Regions from separate parts of the Homo sapiens genome. Here region 1 is linked to region 2. Evidence: fine-mapped expression QTL. A gene starts in region 2. The other region holds a variant in brackets. All regions are shown on one strand. Distances are from middle to middle.

The links. PIP is the estimated chance that this variant, and not a neighbour inherited with it, causes the effect.
Region 1: its variant is fine-mapped to the expression of NCALD in whole blood (TOPMed, PIP 0.97).

The regions. Positions count from the first base shown.
Region 1 is chr8:102,122,710-102,125,618 of GRCh38, reverse strand. MIR5680 (microRNA 5680) reads right to left here and starts at 187; the gene lies at 104-187. It also overlaps a transcript of NCALD not described here. RefSeq lists silencers at 1,283-1,342, 1,713-1,902. The variant G/T (reference allele first, on the strand shown) is at 1,338.
Region 2 is chr8:101,789,325-101,792,233 of GRCh38, reverse strand. NCALD (neurocalcin delta) reads left to right here and starts at 1,265. Exons shown (of 4, transcript NM_032041.3): 1 at 1,265-1,372.

The DNA of each region.
Region 1 (2,909 bases), 330 kb before region 2:
TTTTAACAATTAGATTAGATTCTCTCGGGGTCGGGCCTAGTATTAAGAAAAAAGAAAAAACCAAAAACCAAAAAATCCAACTTTCCAATGCAAATTTTTGCTTGCATTGGATTAGCAGATTAGTCCAGCATTTCTCCTCCTGTGTGTCCAGGAAGGGAAATGCTGGGCTAACCTGCTAACCCAATGCAAGCAAAGGTTTTAGTATTTGATGATGGTTTAACAGCCTCCTAGATAATTTTTGTTTTACAATTGAAGGCAACCGGTAGAGCTAGGAAAGGGTGCTTTTGATTAGATGAAACTTTTACTTGGTGTTTAAATCAGAGTTGGCAGCTGTCTGGACCTCAATGTAACTGTCCTTTCTATAACCAGTCATGTTAAAAGATTTTGCAAACATTACAACGAGGAAGGCCAGGTCACGGTGCCTTTGCAGCCTTGTTATTTTTAAGCAGCAACTTTTTAAATTGATGAATTTGAGTTGCTCTTGAGACCTTCTGCGGGTTCTGGAAATGTCACCAGGGTTGACAAGCACAAGGAGTTAGTTACAGTGGCTTTTTGAGAGGCCATGAGTGGACGACACAGCAAGACAGGAAACAGGTGCTGGCAGCCAGCAGGTACTCGATAAATATTGGGTGAATGAATTGACAAGACATTTTGCTTCTCATTATCTCCACACGAGATGAAAAATTTGAGGGGAGGAAGGAGGGGCAGGAGAGGGGCCCCTTAGATGTCTTCCTCCGGATTTTTTGTTAAGCTTTTCCTAGACAGTTTACAGAAGGCTTTGGGTAGAGAAAGCACTAGTTAGACAAAAGCAGCCCCCCTCCCACCTTGTGGGCATGAAGAGTCCAGAGGACACCACCTGAGAAGCTTTTCAACTGCCTTCCAAGGCTCCCTTGAACTTCACTGCGGTAGAGCAGGGACCCCAGACCCCCCCTCAAATCGAAGCTTGGAAGGAGGTGCTCTAGGCTGAATCTGACCTCCCAGGACCCGAGGAGGCAAGCAGATGGCACCCCTTGGAAAGTAGCAGTGCAGGCTGGCTAGAGGCCTGGGCGGTGAGCTAGGACTATGGGGCACCGTGGGGACACGCCCGGAGGCTGCACCAGGGCAAGCGGGGGAGGGGGGGGGCGTCCACTGCACCTGCAAATCCCGCGCCTCATCTTGGCCCCCCTGCAACCCCGCGGTGAAGCCCACGCCGGAGAGGCTGCCTGCGGGGCTGCAGTGGAGAGGGGGTCTGCGGCCGCGAGGAGGGAGGCGGCGAGCCAGGCTGGGGAGGGGGGCGCGGCTGGCGACGGTGCTGTCCAGGGGGAGGCGGGCGGAGGGAAGGCGCTGCCGCTGCTGCC[G/T]CCGCCTCGCCCGAAGCGACACAGACGCTGGGAGCGGCCGAGGCGGTGAGTCGCAGCGCCTTCCCTCCGCTTCTCGGGAGCCAGAGCGGAGTCGGAGTTGCAGCCGGGGCGGGTGTGCCGGGGGCGGCTGCTGGGGGGGACCCGTGCGCTCGGTGCGCCGCGGGCGCAGGGGTGGGTTCGAGGAGCGCGCGGTTCTGGGAACCTGGTTCCAGCAGCTCCCTCCTGGGTGCAGTTCACCCTGTCAATTCCTCTGTCATTCCCCCAGTGCCTCTGAGGGAAAACAAAACAAAATTACAGACCTTGAGGGTGGGCGGCAGAAAAGGAGAGAGCAACTTTGCAGAGGGCCGCGCAGAGGCGCGTGGGGCCGGCGGGATGGGGCGCGCTGGGCAGAAGGGGGCGTTGGTGAGCCTGGCGGCCCGGGGACCTCTGGAGCATCCCGCCCCGGGGGCCGGGGCCGGGGCCGGGGGCCGGGGCACCCGCTGGATCCCGGGCCTGCGGAGTCTGCCCGGAAAGGCCACAGGAGGCGAGTGCGGGGCGTGGGCGTCTGGGGAGGGGGCCAAGGGAGAGGCCGAAAGGCGCTGGTTGAACACGGACGAGGAAGTGGTCTGCATTTTGGACTCAGGACCTGAAAGATTCGTGTCCCTTGCGCTCGAGGACTTGGGAAGGGTGTGCTGGGGAGATGTGTTTGAGTGTTTTTCAGTGCATACCGATTTATTTTTAGCTCCCAGAGAAGCAGGATGTGCAAAGTGGGTTGTATCAGCCCGGGAGGGGCAGGAGGTCTCCCTGTCCGCAGGAAATACACAAGTTTTTTTTTTTTTTTTCTAATGCTGCAGATGCTTGCTTTAACTTTTGTGCATGGAGAAAGAATGCCATTTGGCTCTGCAGAGCTCCTGCCAGGGTCAGTTTCTTCCTGCGGGTCTGTCGGAGGCCGCAGGCGAGGCGGCTGGTGTGCTGCTGTGCTTACACGCTAGCCCCGCAAGAAGGTCTATGTTCTGTTCCGTAGGGCAGCTACGGTGAAACACAGAAGTAGGCAGCCAAGGTCTCACTCTCTCAGAAGGAAACCACACAAGCTCGCTCAAAGTTTTCCTACTTCTGGCTGATTTGAAAATAACAGACCTAAGCCACTGTATTACCAAGAGCAGAGTTTGCTGTCAGGGGTTTCTCAGACCTAAGTGGAAATGCTTGTGAGGTTTTTCACTCCAATTGGGAGATCCCCGTGTTTTATGGCCAAAGGCCTTGATGCAGACTACAAAGGAGAGGGGGTGTGGTGTGATGGTGGGAGTGTGGGTACTTGCGGTAGCGGGGCAAGGACAGATCTGGGGAGGAGGCTCAAGAAACTGAAATTCACATGTTTACCTACCCAAGCCAGATCTCTGGAAATTGTCCTGGAGTCTCCCCTGTCTCAACCATTCAGTGTCCAGTCCTGTAGACCCTCTGTCTGTAACTGTATTAGGAGAGTTGCCAATATGGACATTAGGAGTGTGGGCTCTGCAGCCAGACAGCCGGGTTTGAGCTGTGGCTCATTCGTCAATAGCTCCTGGATCTTGGGGTCCTTACTTAACCTCTACTGTG
Region 2 (2,909 bases):
GTTCCATTTATATTTTGTAGCACCCCAGAGCTACTCTTTTTTATTTATTTATTTATTTTAAGAAACAGAATAGAAGTCGTTATAAGCCTAGCATATAAAGGTCCTTAGGGTTTTGAGGGCAGTCTCTTCTCCCCTGCCTTTTAACTCCTTGTCCTTTGTTTGGGCATACATTTTCTGAATGTCTTTTTCAGAGTACCTTCTTGTGAGTTTCATTGATTTTGTTTAATCGGCTTCCCATTAATTAAGAAAGAGAATTAACTGGGAAATAGGCACGTGTGCAGAGTTAAAAGTAAGCTAGGGTCGTCGTAAAGGAAATAAAGCTGATGTTAGAAAACATGTGAGATAACCCTTTCATTCTATGGCTCTGGGCTTTCATTACACTTTGTGTTTGTGGAACACTGGCCCTGTTTACTCAATGTTGAGTCTCAGCAAAGGGGTGTGGATGAGAGGACTCAAGAGGGGAGCATTTGGCACCCGTATGGCCCCAAAGCACAGTTTTCAGCTTACTCACATGGTTATTTTAAAGTAACACTGTTTTGAAACTCCTTCGGTCCTCATTTTTACCTAGACATTTTACAGTACAGGAATCCTGAATTTATGTTATCTGATGTCTACATCCTACTTGGTGTCAGGATCATTAGACTGTCTTACCTGTCTCTGAGTCATAAGCCACTGTCATGAACCCAAGCCACTGTTTTTTATTTTTCTTTCCATCACAAGCATGGTCTCAGTATATCCATGTAGACTCTGATATAGTTTTTAAAATACATTTTCTTCCAACCCCTCCCCCTGAGCTTCTGTTTTTATATATTTGCTTGCAAATAAGTTTAATTGGCTAAGAAAACTACTCCAGAATTTTTCAGTTTCTTTCCTTTTGTTATAGAGAAAGAGAGAGAGAGAGACATGCTTCATGCTGATGGTAGTGAAACAAATGAGAACTTCAGGGTGGCATATATTTTCCTGCAAGTAACTGTAGAGAAAAGACACCAAAGCCTTAAAGAGGAAAGTTGTAGGCATTCTGGAGTCACAACTTCGGGGGTTGAGGTTGTCAAGGAGCTGTCCGTGATGGTTCTATGGTGTGTGCGTACACACATACTCTCTCTCTCACACACACACACCACAGTGACAGATGACCTATTGAAATAATTTCAGAGCCGGTCTGTGGTTGCTACGACAACCAATGATCTCTTGGCTTTCATCTGGCCATGTGACAGGGACTTTGACGTCAGCTAGAGGCAGAGTCTGTGGCTGAGTCCACACAGTCAAAGGCTTGTGAGAATCTGGTGGATGCTGGACCTTGCTGCTGCTGCTACTGCTGTTTCCAGGGGCTGCAGAGCATGGACTGTTAAATCTTGCACTTCTTCTGAGTGAGGTAATTAGTTTGCTTTATATACAATAGTTAGATGTTTTTATAGCTCATTGTGGTTTTCCCCTCTCTCTTACCTCCTACAAGTTTGTATTCATGAGCAATTATTGTTGTACCAAGGGGAAAATGTGAAGCAGCTTCTAGTTGTGAATTTCAGGCAGGTTCTCTGGAATTTGGTTAAATTTGGATTAATGTTTTGTGAAGTAGGTTAAAATATAATCGTCTTGCTTGCTCAACACTTGCTAACATAACATTATTTAGACATACGGATTTTGCAGCTTGAGCCAAATATTCTCTCTTGAATTCCAGGAATCCTCCCTTCAGTATTGTTTTGGGTTTAAAAACTCCAGCATAGCCTTGCAATGTGTTTCTAACTTTTCTTTTTACAATTGCTACTCAATTCTGAATCAGCCTAAAATAGTTTGGAATTTGGTTTCTATCTTGTTTGCAGCATTCATATTTAGCAACAATAGGAACCACGGGAAATAACATTATAACTGAAACAAAAGTTGGGATTTTGCTTGTAAGTAAAACCTTTGGTATTCTGAAAGTACCAGGAAAAATTGTCAACAGTTTCCTGTTTAGAGAGAAATAATCGGGAATATGCCAAGGAAGTTGGGGTGGAACCTTTTACATGTGTGCATGCAATTGCTTTTTGGTTGTTAGAGCAAAGTGCATATTTCCAGTATCCTCCCCTGAAAATTCAGCTGTGAAGAGAATGGCATGAGGTGGTCTTTACTAAGGAGTCATGTAAGCTGTTGTTATTTTTAAAAATCGTCATAATTACCTAAAGAAAAAAACAATAGCCCTAAAATGAAAAGTATCATTGACACAAGTTCTACTTTAACTCAAACACAGATAGAAGTAGTCACTCACAATTTGCTCTGGATCTTAAATGAATAATTTGATAACTGTGATTAATAAGAATTTTTATCTCTTTATTCCTATAATACTATTTACTACAAATTGTTTTCTTTGTATTGTAGTTCCTTTCCTTCCCAAGTTTAGTAATTTCAGATTTTCTTTCATGACATACAGGTTGAATTGTTTTGGAGCTTCTAATTTAAAGAATACCTGTAGTACTGAAGTTAGCCAAAGTCTAGATTTATAACCAGGTGTCTAAATCTTACAAGTTTAACAGAAAAAGGGGCAAATTTTAGAGCACTACATGTAATACAGCTAGTATTTTAATTAGTAGAAGAAACTGGTTTAACTGTATATATGAATACCATATATTCACAGTGTGTGAATTATATCGTAATTTAGTGCAAGAATATATTGTTTTAATTTTTATGTTCTTTATTAGTTTCAGAATTCTAATAGCATTTATTTTACTCTTGGAGGTGAAAAATTTTGAACAGTATTTAGCTACAGTAATAAGTGAATAACTGTGGGTATATCAATAATTTCTCAGTAGCTTTCAATGAGTGAATATTCATTTAACTTGCTGGCATTTGACATGTCTGTTTTTGGTCAGGGTCTCCGTGGAGGATTTTCCAAAAGTCTAATGTGCTTTCATTCCAGGCACATCTACTGAGACATA